Linked DNA regions of Homo sapiens. The protein of the gene in region 3 purifies or fractionates together with the protein of the main gene of each other region. This does not show direct contact. Each region holds a gene or a part of one and is shown on either strand. Other genes may lie near its edges.

Evidence for each region.
Region 1: the proteins of NCOA4 (region 3) and SLC2A12 purify together in Homo sapiens (co-immunoprecipitation; one large-scale study listed by IntAct). This does not show direct contact.
Region 2: the proteins of NCOA4 (region 3) and P2RY10 purify together in Homo sapiens (co-immunoprecipitation; one large-scale study listed by IntAct). This does not show direct contact.

The regions. Positions count from the first base shown.
Region 1 is NC_000006.12:134,000,625-134,004,124, reverse strand, and holds part of SLC2A12 (solute carrier family 2, facilitated glucose transporter member 12), read left to right. Parts: intron 1-1,995; coding exon 1,996-2,128; intron 2,129-3,500. UniProt on the Homo sapiens protein: Insulin-independent facilitative glucose transporter.
Region 2 is NC_000023.11:78,948,391-78,951,890, reverse strand, and holds part of P2RY10 (putative P2Y purinoceptor 10), read right to left. Parts: intron 1-3,500. UniProt on the Homo sapiens protein: Putative receptor for purines coupled to G-proteins.
Region 3 is NC_000010.11:46,012,818-46,018,352, forward strand, and holds part of NCOA4 (nuclear receptor coactivator 4), read right to left. Parts: intron 3,878-5,535; coding exon of another isoform or gene 3,864-3,877; coding exon 3,723-3,863; intron 2,450-3,722; coding exon 2,309-2,449; intron 2,126-2,308; coding exon 2,037-2,125; intron 1,736-2,036; coding exon 1,627-1,735; intron 823-1,626; coding exon 733-822; intron 210-732; coding exon 66-209; intron 1-65. UniProt on the Homo sapiens protein: Cargo receptor for the autophagic turnover of the iron-binding ferritin complex, playing a central role in iron homeostasis. Acts as an adapter for delivery of ferritin to lysosomes and autophagic degradation of ferritin, a process named ferritinophagy.

The DNA of each region.
Region 1 (3,500 bases), on a different chromosome or scaffold from region 3:
GCTAATACACTGGAGGAGCTAGTGAAGCTTTAGAAGTTCCGTATGGGCTTTTAGAACAAATGTAGGAAAACAGATCCACTTAAAAACAAAAAGCCTAGAATGCTCTAAAACCTTTAGATGACATTTAATTGGAATGCTTGACATTTCCTACTTATTTTCAAAAATAAATTTTCCAAGTGTAGGACACAGGGATCTAAAAGACGTGAGGTTCTACTTGGCAGTAAGCCCTTAAACACCAACATTTTTTATGCAATTTCAGCTGTATCAATAAAAGCAGACTGTTCCAGATAGACAAATGTACTCTGCAGTGATCATGACACAATTGTAGCATTGCATTCAGCTCTGAGTAAAACATCTCGAGAGGGCCATTTAAAAATTGCAGTGTGTTCGCTGAAGGAGGGCAACCTGAATGGCGAGGGCAGTAACCTATGCTGTGGGAAGAATGGTTGAAGAGCTCAGGATGTTTGACTTGGACAAGGGGATTCTCAGAGGAGGGCTGAGGTGCATTCAAATATTTGAATGGCTGTCACGGAGAAGGGGTGGGGAGAGCTGATTCACTGTGTGTCCTTCCACAGGACAAAGCACAGCCTCTGAAAGGCAGATTTAGGATCTAAGCAAGGAATAACTTTTTAGCAGACGCAACTATTTCACAGGGCAGTAAGAGGCTTCGTGAAATGGTGAGCTCCCTGTTACTCAAAGTGCTCAAACAAAACTGGGGACAATTTGATGAGACAGCCTTTAGGGTTTTGACAATTTCTATATTCTGGTTTTAAGCTCCAGAGAAGGAAGGACACCCAATTCTACAAGGACTTTATTAAGCAATCAGTTGGGCCATACCCTGTGCCAGCTAGAAAAGCAGAGAGAGACAGGAGTTTAATTAAAATTGCCAAAAGAACTGCAGTGCGGTTCCTCCTTCCTGCTTCTCCCAACCTCAGCACAACTCACCGACAAGTAGTTACTATGCTTCGATTCTTTCATGCTGCATTTACAAACACTGCCTCAGTACACAAGTGCTCAGTCAGTTTTCCTGCCTGACCAACTGTGGTTTGTGGCTGCAGCTGTTAAAGGCTATTTGTAAAATCTTGTTGTTCGTAGTTGACTACTCCTTGCCACACTAGACATTCTGCTGCTGAGTCAGGGGCCGCCACAATGCAAATGGCAGCCTCAAGTGCACTGTGGGGGCCACTGCTGACCACTGAATGTGCCTTGACTTGGTCCATGACTACAAAGGGACTGTATCTTTGGCTGGAAGCGGTCAGAGGAAAAACTAGGTTTGCAGATGAGAGTCATCAGAATCTTGAGGATCCTGCTTCTTGTGATGCATCTTGGCAAGTTGATGGCTTTTACTGGATCCATGATCACTTTTTTCTCTGAACCCAGGAAGAAACATTACAAATACACTGCAAGCTATTAAAAATGATGAAATATTGCCAGCATGAAATGATTTATTCACATCAGAGCAAAGAAGGGTGAGCTCATTCCAAGAAAAATCCATCTGTACAAATGTCATTAAAAATGTCCACCATTGGGAATGATAGCAAGAGGGGGAAAAAATTGTCCACCGAACAGAAACTAAACTGCTACCATGGCGATTCCCAAGAGGGGAACTGTGGAGAGGGAGAAGAGAGATTTTACCTTCTACATCATATGTTTCCATGTTATTTGAGGTTCCTTTTTTGCATGTGCTTTTTTATATTAATAAAGACACATTGCCATTTTGAAACAGAAAGACATGCCCACCAAGAAGATGACATTGGGTGTAAATTGTGATAGTTACAAGACTGCTATTTTCTTCAACAGAGAAAACTAAGGTAGTCTGTAAAAGTAACACCTTCAGAGCTGGCTACATTTTAAATTTGTGATTTCTATTTTCCTGGATACTGCTGGCATGTTTGAAAATACATATGGTGCTATGTATGCCCTAAGTGGCTGTTCACAAATGGGATCAAAGCTACACAAAACACATTTCTAATCAATTTCTTTTGTCCTTTATAGATCTTATTGGCCTGCCATGGGTGTGCTTTATATATACAATCATGAGTCTAGCATCCCTGCTTTTTGTTGTTATGTTTATACCTGAGACAAAGGGATGCTCTTTGGAACAAATATCAATGGAGCTAGCAAAAGTGTAAGTATTACATGCATTGGTTTCTGAACAATACTCTTTGGTCAAAAGTGCAGCTTTTATATACAGCAAAGGAATAATATCTGAAATTATTAGATATTATTAGATTAGGACATTCCCTTTAGCGTAAGACTATGTCTCAGTGCATAATTCCAATTTCCCTGCTTTGTCTTTAATTTGGGTGATTCAGCTAAGGAAGAATAACCATTTCTTCCCAATGAATGAAGCTTTTTTTTTTTTTTTCAAACTACAAAGTGAATGTATTTGATTGGCAAGTGCAAATTTTCACTTATCAATGAAATATTGTACTGAATTTGAATAAAATCTTTACAATTGGAATGTTTTTTAACGTTAGCCTTTTATAATTATCATCAAACTGTAATGCTATTATTCATTACTATGACCAACCAATATGTACGTACAAGGTTACAAGTTTTTTCCTTTTATACGAAACAAAAACAAAAATACATCATTGTAATTAAAAAGCATTAAACCATATTTTCCTTTTTTGTAATGTAATAATTTTTACTAGAACAAAGTTTAATATTTTCACTGTCTGCATTTCTTTTCGGAAAAAGAAACTGTTACTATTGTTGTTTTACCTGATTTTTTCCTGAAACTAATTTTGTTGTACAGAGGATGTGAATCTTCTGTGCTACTGATTAAAACTATCTCATTTAAAAAACAGTTTATTTCCATAGGTTTTTGGGGAACAGGTGATATTTGGTTACAGAGTAAGTTCTTTAGTGGCGATCGTGAGATTTTGGTGCACCCATCACCGGAGCAGTATACATTGAACTCAATTTGTAGTCTTTTATCCCCCACCACCCCCCAATGCTTCCCCCACCCAGTCCCCAACCAACGGGTGAACATTTTAAAGCTCTACTCAATCACCATCTCAGAACTTCTTCCGCCTCTCTAGCTCCCCCCAACAGGTTTTCTTTGTTTGGGGTTTGGGGTGGGTCCCGGAAGTGTAGATATACCATGTTCACACTGGGCTAGGAACTTGGGTCTCAGCCTTTCCATCTCTATCAGACTTAGAGCTCCTTCTCTGTGCCCTAAACACTTGCTAAGGCTAAGATTAGCAGAAAAACTCTCAGGCTTAACCATCTACCGTTGTTCTAAATATTGCACATTTAAGGTAATTTTAAGAAAGATAAGTTTCTTATATGAATAGGCTTTTAGAAAACTGGTTTAAAAAATTTCACAAGGAGAGATTGTTTAAACAATTTAACTTAGAAGTGAAACATTTAATTTAGAAGTGAGTGGCAGAAAATTCCCTTTCCTTTTTTAGTAGCTCTAATTGCCAAAACCATGTCCTGGGGGAAGAGGTGAGACATAGGGGCTAAGAATGAAGCAGAACTTGTTACTCTTC
Region 2 (3,500 bases), on a different chromosome or scaffold from region 3:
TAATGGATGCTGGGCTTAATAACTAGGTGATGGGATGATCTTTGCAGCAAACGACCATGACACACATTTACCTATGTCACAACCCTGCACATCCTGCACATGTACCCCTAAACTTAAAATAAAAGTTGAAGAAAATATGGGCAAAAAAACAAAAATCAAAGTATGGCTCTAAAGATGTTCCTGATAATAAAAATGGCACGCACAAAGTTATGACTAAAACTCCATCATATTCCTTTTTTACCTGGAGCCCAACTCAGAGGTCAATATTTTACTTCTGTCTCAATATCGCATCTCAACTCCCATTTTTTCCTTACATCGGGCAACCCTACTCTCACTCCCCTCTTCTTCGAACACCTACTGAATTTATAGGCTGCACTGTGAGAAGGTAAGACTACAGAGCATAGGCACATATTAGCAGAGCATTAGGCATTTTTACTTGTAAAGTCTCTCCCATGAAACACTCTCCTAAACAACAGCCATAATCTTTCTCCTTTCTGCTACTGAAGAAAATGTGGTCAAAGCAAGAATAATAAGGTTTTAGTCTAAGAAATCTGAACACCTAAGAGCTTTAAAGAAGGCAATCCAGCTTTCGTTTTGAAATCCAACAGGAATCCCTTAAACTTAATTAGGAATTTGATCACTGAAAACTTTATTTTGTGGAAACAACTAAATGTTTTCTCAGAATACAAAGGTATGGAAGGTCTTTAAATATGATTCATTGGAGCTGAGCCCAAAATCTTACTAGATACTAATACCATCTACCCAAAAGCAGCTGCTCTTCCCAACCAACTAGCTCAACGTTGTGGTTTTCACAAAGTTACAGCCAAACTGAGCTTATATTATTATGGCATCAGAATTTATATTAGTTTCCTAAGTCCCAGTGAGGAAATTTCCACATCCTGTCAGTAACTAGCTAAGTGCTATTCACGTTACCTCTAATCTTTGTAAGAATTCTGAGTTAATTACTATTATACTCCTTTACAGATTAGAAAATGGAGTCTCAGCAGGAGTAAGTGACTTTCTGCAGTCAGAGTTATGATTTCAGCTTTAATAAGGCTTTTCATAAGCCCAGAAAGCTAAAGTTATTTTTAGCTGAATAACTTATTATATGGACAGAAACATATTTTAAAGTGGTATTTCTGTGGATAAGACTGTTCCTCAGAGATAAAAAAGCTATTGTTTTCGGTTCTAGTTCTAGCAGTTTTATGCATATGCACTATGCATATATGGCAAATTGCTGCCCACCAGGTGTCAGGATAGGATTATATCAAAACCAACGTTCTTTATGGAATTGTGCTTATGAATTCAAATTATAACAAATCTGTAGATAGAAGTAATGGAACAATTTCTTTACAACAGGAGTGATCTGAATAGGACAAGACTTGCTGTAGGATACAGAAGACTCAAAAGCAGTATAATATATAGAAAGGTGTACTGGATTTGTAGCTAAGATACTTGGATTTCAGTAATTTTATATACTCTTTGTGCTGCTCTGATACGCTCTTTCCCTTCTGTGAGTTTCATTTCCTCATTATTAAAATAATATGATTTGAACTAGATGACCTTTAACTCCCTTCTAGCTCTCATTTGGTATGATTTCATGAGAATTCCCCCTCTGAACCCTGCTCCTAACTAATATCATCACCATTGACACTGCCACCATTTATGCAGCTGGTACCAACTCCATAAATCTTCACTCTCAATCTTCCCTGTCTTTTCACCACTCATCAGTAAGTCACTGGCACCACTAAGTAAACATGTTTATCAAATTTACTTCTCCATTTTATTTGATGCTGAAGCCTGTCTGTGGGCTTGTCATCCTGGGAGGGGAAGAAAAAATTAAACAGAGAAAACAAGTTGCTGATGGGGGCCCCTCCCACTCTCTAGAGGATAACTTTTACATGTCATCTGGGAACTTAACTTGCTTTGCCTCATCTTACCTTTTTCTTTTATTTTTTAACCACTAAATTTCACATGAATTATCCAAGCCAATCTGATCTCCATGACCCCGGTGTTCTTCATTCAGCCGCTTACAACCAGAACCAAAGAGTAGCAGCTAGAATTGGAAACTCTGCTGTTTCCTGAATAAATCTACATCAACTCCAAATAAGCCTGGTTGACATGAGATACACACAAATTTGGACACATTCTGCAAGTACAGACATTTTCTTCTGTTAGAGGAAGTGAAAATTATTTTTATCCTTAAAATGAATTAAAGCAATTAGACCATTAACAAAACAACAACTTAAAGTTTGAATTTGAACTTTCATGCAGGAATATGTATTGGACTTTCAATCATTTAGGAAGGCGGCCTAATTAGATATCATTTTTGCAGCTGTGGCAGCATTTTATGGGTGGAAATAATCATGTTCTTTGGAAGACCTGGTATCATATCATGTCTCAATTGTCGGTTCTCTGGCCTGAAACAATTCACTTCATATCACCAGGCTTCAGTTTCCTCTTTTGTAAAATTAGAATGGTTCCTGCCACATAATTTGTTTTGAGCATTAAAGAAAAATGTGTCTGAAAATAATAATCCGAGTAAACAGACAACCCACAGAATGAGAGAAAATATTTGCAGACTATGCATCTGACAAAGGACTAGAAACTAGAATCTACAAGGAACTCAAACAAGTCAGCAATAGAAAGAGAAATAATCCCATTATAGAGTGGGCAAAGGACATAAATAGAGATTCCTCAAAAGAAGATATACAAATGGCCAACAAACACGAAAAAATGCTCCACATCACTAATCGTCAGAGAAATGCAAATTAAAACCAGAATAAAATAGCACGTTACTGCAAGAATGGCTATTATTAAAAAGTGAAAAAAAAATAGATGCTGGTAGATATGTGGATAAAAGAGAAAGCTTCTACACTGCTGGTAGAAATGTAAATTAGTACAACTTCTATAGAAAACAGTATGGAGATTCCTTAAAGAGCTACAAGTAAATCTACCATTTGATACAGCAATCCTACTAATCACAATTGCAAAGATGTGGAATGAATCTATGTGCCAATTGACTAACGAGTGGATAAAGTAAATGTGGTGTATATACACTATGTAATACTCCTCAGCCATAAAAAGGATCGCAATAATGTATTTTTGCAGTAACTTGGATGGAGGTGGAGTCCACTATTCTAAGTAAAGTAACACAGGAGTGAAAAATAAAAAAAATAGATGTTCTCACTTATAAGTGACAGATAAGCTATGATTATGCAAAGGTATACAGAGTGATATAATGGAATCTAGAGACTCAGAAGAGGGTGGGTGAGACAGGCTAGGCATAAAAATATTACACATTAGGTACAACGTGCACTACTGAGGTGGTGGGTGCACTAAAAATCTCAGAATTTACTGCTATATAATTTACCCATGCAACAGAAAAAAACACTTGTAGTTCAAAAAATATTGAAATAGAAATGAAAAAAAGAAAATGTGTGTAAAAGTACCTATTTTCATGTCTGATACCCAATAAGTATTAAATAAATGTGAGTTCA
Region 3 (5,535 bases):
CTGATTAGTAACTAACTCCACCTACTGCTGTGTCTACTGTAGAAACAATAAAAGCAGCAACAGACCTGACTGTTCTCCAAGGTCTGCTTTTGGGTAAGCCAGTCCTGGGGGTCGGTGCTGGGTATGTAAGGAGCTTGATAACCACTGGCAGGTTTGCTTCCAAGGAGCCATTCGCTGAAAGGGACAGCTACAATACCGGATGCTGACTTCTGTTAATCACAAAACAAGGAATGTCAAATGCAGTAGAAAGTTCACCAGAAAAAGAGAAGAGCCACTCTCTAATCTTGGCTTGCCACTGACCCTGGGCAAATCATGTGCCTTCCAAGAGCCTCAATTTTCACAATTATAAAACAAGAGACACACAGCTGATCTCTAGGGCTCTTCTCAACTAAAACATATAGAAACCTTTATTCACATTGCCATTCCTTTAGAAATAAATCATCTCTACAAATTATAAAGAGGATCGCTCACAGAGAACCAGTATCAGTAAGACAGCTAATGATAATTTCCTGTGAACTGATTGATAATTACTTTTTCTGTTAATCAGCCCCGACAAGACATCTAAATTTCTATTTGGCATTAGGTCTCAAGGGAAGCATTCAATTTCATAAACTAACTCATTGCCACTGGTGCCTTTTTACAAATAGTAGCATTTTTTTAATGCTATATAAAACCCAAAGGAAGTATAAGCCAAGTAATGACTCAATTACCAAAAACAAAATGATATTTTACCTGCTCTGGCATGGAGATACAGCCTCTCTTCTCCAGGAAGGGCCCAATATTTGCTGAACTAGCATGAGCCATCAAGTGCTCAGGAATTTGCTACAAAATAGAGATAATTTAATCATGTTATTTATGCTATGCTGCCAAAAAAGTGAAATTATAATTCCAAATTTCAAAAATGTTAAAGCATTACCATTTCATTAGAAATACTGTTCACACTAAATTCCATGACTTACAAAGTAGTTATCAAATTTGAGAATACTCTACCACATAACTATTATATAAAAAATCTTTACCAGAATTGGTTGTATTACCACTTTTAACAAGACCCAAACGTTTCGTTCTTTATTAAAAACTATTCAAGCCATAAATTTTACAAAAAATATTTCAAAAGTATTTAGAGAGATACATGAGGCATTCCAAAGAGTATCACTGAGTCTGTACTACATTCCAAGAACTACCAACCTAGGCAACTTAATCAGAATATGAATTTTTTTTTTTTTAGGCGGAGTCTCACTGTTTGTCGCCCAGGTTGGAATGCAGTGGCACGATCTCAGGTCACTGCAACCTCCGCCTCCCAGCTTGAAGCGATCCTCCTGCCTCAGCCTTCCAAGTAGCTGGGATTATAGGCGCCCAGCTAATTTTTTTGTATTTTTAATAGAGATGGGTTTTCACCATGTTGGCCAGGCTGGTCTTGAACTTCTGACCTCAAGTGATCCGCCCTCCTCGGCCTCCCAAAGTGCTAGGATTACAGGCGTGAGCCACCACGCCCAGCTGAGAACATGAAATTTTTGAAGCTAATCAAATTCTCAAGAAAGTCACTATTCATAGCAATTTTTTTTAAGACCAGCTGTGAGGCCACAGATATGAGAAGTGCCCAGTGAAGCATATGAGATTACTCACAATGGTTTTGAGAGACCCAAATGTGGTGATGGTCTGGCGCAGAGTAATTGTGTCAGCTTCAAAGAGCAGGACAGTTGAATCTTCAGGCTTAAGGGTCAAACTGCCCAGTCTGGGGAAAAAAAAACAAAATTGGCTATTTTTAAGGAATATCTGTTTCATCAACTTCATCTAAAACAAAAGCCAAATTGTGAGTAATTTTAAATGATTACACTTCTCTAAGAAACTCAACCAAAGATAGATGGCTTATTCATGTATCAGCAAGTATAATATTAAATACATGAAGCAGAATGATCTTATCCTAGCAACACAGAAGTTAAATATAACACAAGCAATGAGTTACAAAATCGACTTTCTTTTAGTATACCAAAGTTCAAGAGTCAAAAGTTAAAATACGCAAAAAGGGTCATTACCTCTCCAGGCACACAGAGACTTGATTGGCTAGATCTTTGTTTTGGGTACACTCCAGTTGATGAGTAAGACAATTGAACTGGCCCAATAACTAAAAGAAAAATGAAACCAACTAGCCACAATGACACCAAAAGCACCAGATATACTCAAGTTACCAAACAGCACTTGAGATTAAACTTCTATCTGATCTATATTAACACTGCATTACAAGGAAGATACTCTCTGGCAACCAGAAGCCATGCTCAAACCAATTCTAGCCATGCAGTCACCTTACCGAGTAGAGCTGCTGAGCCTGCTGTTGAAGTGTCTCCTCTTTAAGCTGATAAATAAGGTCCACCTGTTCATACAGCCATACCTCACGGCTTCTAAGACATTCCAGGTGACGGCTTATGCAACTGTGAATCTGAGCTTTGACCTAGGAAACACATACATGTTAGCTTCCTAGTGTTAATCCCAAAGAATGATGTTTCCCAAAGAATAGTGAGTTTCTAAAACTTTTTTTGGGGGGGTGGGGTTGGGGGGACCACAAATCCTTTTAATTATCCAATGACATCTATGAAGTATCTCCCCAGAAAAAATGTATATTTTCAAGATTTTACCTATAATTTCAGGGTTTAGTGTTCCAAAGCCCACCCAAGGACCCACTAAAGCCCTATGGACCCCAATTTAAGAATCCTAGCCATAAAGGCATACCTAAACTCTAAAATCCTTCTTCAATACCCAGCCTTCTAAGAGGATTAGGTTTAATTTGGGTGTCCTAATCAAGAGAAAATACAAGAATGTACCAGGAAATACTGACCCCCTCAGTTTTCCACATAATTTAAAAACCTACGGTTTTACAAGTTTATCAGCAGAATAAAGACAGAGTATTAACTTAATAGCTAGCCCCTTATCTCTTTTCTCACCCCACAGAATGAGCGGTCCATTTACAGGAGGCCAATTTAGTAAAGAGATGTGCCACCACATGTCAACAGCTAAAAGACCATTAGGGTAGACAATTTAAGTAAAATTATAAACTAATATTTCTGGAAGCATAAACAGTGATTCAAACAGGGCTAAATATAAAAATCCCAAGGGAAAAAGTCAAAACAGGCCATAAATTATCCGTGACAATATACATAAGAAACTGTATTTTAAAACACATTTTTTTCTGTTTAATAAAGTTGTGTTTCAAAGTCATGTAATACTTGGTCTAACACACACAACAACAAAATACTACTGGAACCAACAACAGATTTCACTCTGGCTTGCCCTAACAGATAGTCATTTACAGAACAATGCCATTAACCAGCTAAAAGATGATGGGGAGGATGCTCAAGTGCATCCTTCATGCAATCAAGAGGATGCAGCTGAGAGGATACTGCTCACTCATTTCATATTTTTACTGGTCACAGTGCCTGAGGAATCACACAGAGGAGTAATCAAAAATCTAAGTAGTTAGTAATCTAAGTAAGCTGAATAGAATTTTCTAGAATGGCACAGGGTTTTCCAGACTCTTCTAGCATCTGCCTTATTTCCCCTTGGGATGAAAGGCACCAGTATATCAGGCAACTGACGGGGACCAAGTAGACCACGCAAGGCATGGGGTGAAATTTTTTGCTGGCACGGAGAGACCAAGTCCTTGGCCATGCTCAAATCAGCCCTGTGTCAAGAGTCCAGACAACAGAAGAGAAAAGCACATGTCACACCTCTCGCAAGTTATCTTTAATTTGCTGTTCAGCCCGGAGAACTCCACCAATAGCAAGCTCCAAGTCCCTCCGTGCATCACTACACCTCAAAAGGGGTTCTCTATTACTGGAGCTGCCACTCTGGTCTTGGAAGGTATTCATTCTCCTCACTGCTCCTTTAAAAGAAAAAAATATATATAAATAGCACCATAATTACAACCAAAAACCACCTTTGAATCATCCCTCAAATGATCATTCCAGCCAACTCCCATTACTAACTACTTAGATTACTTTCCAACACCAAACCTAGCACATAAGATACTCTTAATAAATATTGTCTCCTCCCTTCCCTCTACCACTGTTCCTGCCATAAAACTCTATAATCTACTTTAGTGACACTTTACATGTGAATAGCTATTTCTGGAAAAATACACTAATTGTCCTGAATCAAAGAGCATACAGTGTCCTGAAAAGTTAAAAGAACATTAGAATATCATTTTCTATTTATAACACACATATAGTCATATGAGGCATGTGTTCCTCTTTGTAGATTTAGAGATGAAGACTAAAAGGTACAGAAGGATCTTTGATTACTTTCAAAATAAGCTGCAAACAATCAAGTTTAGAACACTTTGTTTAGAAGACGGAATTTTTAATTTCCCCCTTTTAGGTAGAACTTTTTTTTTTATTTAGGAAGAACTTAAGAATGACTTCACAGCTAGGAAGTTCTCAAAAATATAACATAGGGCCGGGCACGGTGGCTCACACCTGTAATTCTAGTACTTTGGGAGGCCAAGGTGGGTGGATCACTTGATTCCAGGAGTTCGGGACCAGCCTGGGCAAAATAGCCAGACCCCGTCTCTACAAAATATAAAAATTAGCCACATGTGGTGGTGTGCATCTGTAGTCCCAGCTACTTGGCAGGCTGAGATGGGAAGATCACCTGAGCCCAGGAGTTCGCAGCTGCAGTGAGCCGTGATTGCACCTGCACTCCACCCTGGGTAAGAGGGTGAAACTCTGTCTCAAAACAACAACAAAAAAGAATATAACAGATATAGAGATACATGTTTTATATAGAGAGAATATATGTAATATATAATATATAAAAGAATGTGCATTATATGTAACAGATTATATGTGACAAAATGATTTCATGATTCTCATATAAAGGAGACACAGAAATTGGTGTGGGTAAATACAGAGTTCTCTAAGAAGCTTGGGTTTAGGAGCGAAAGGAAACACAAATGGGAAGAACAGCATATAATGATAAAATGAGACTGTAACACATGAGTGTCAGTAAAGCCATAACGTAAAACTTGACAAAAGCTACTGCAAGAACAATGACATGATTTTTAAACACTGAGAAAATGACAGCAGTGATTACTAGAGCTCAGAATAGGTTCACTAAGCCTTGTGATACCAGTTATTTCCTTTTGGATTGTTTTACTAAACTGGCAAGTCAAGGTAATGCTGTAGACACAAAGGGATGACAGAAGACTTGTGGCAAGACTATATGTTATCACTGTGGAAAAAGTGAATATTAGCTAAAGAGAAGCACAATTAAACTGAATAATAAGATTATTTTTTACAAAATACTCAAAGGATGACAGACTAAGGCCAGTTTGTAAAGTTTTGAGAGGCACATCCCTGTTTTTCCTAATTACCTGTATGAAAACACACAAGACAAACATTAAAGCTGGAGGTAACATGGGGCTGTGACAGAAACAGATCCCAAAACAATCTCTACATAGCTGTTCAATTTTACAAAACAAAATGTAAGTTTTTTCACTTTAATTAGGGAGGGCAAGGAAGAGAATAATTCCTTTTTAAAGGG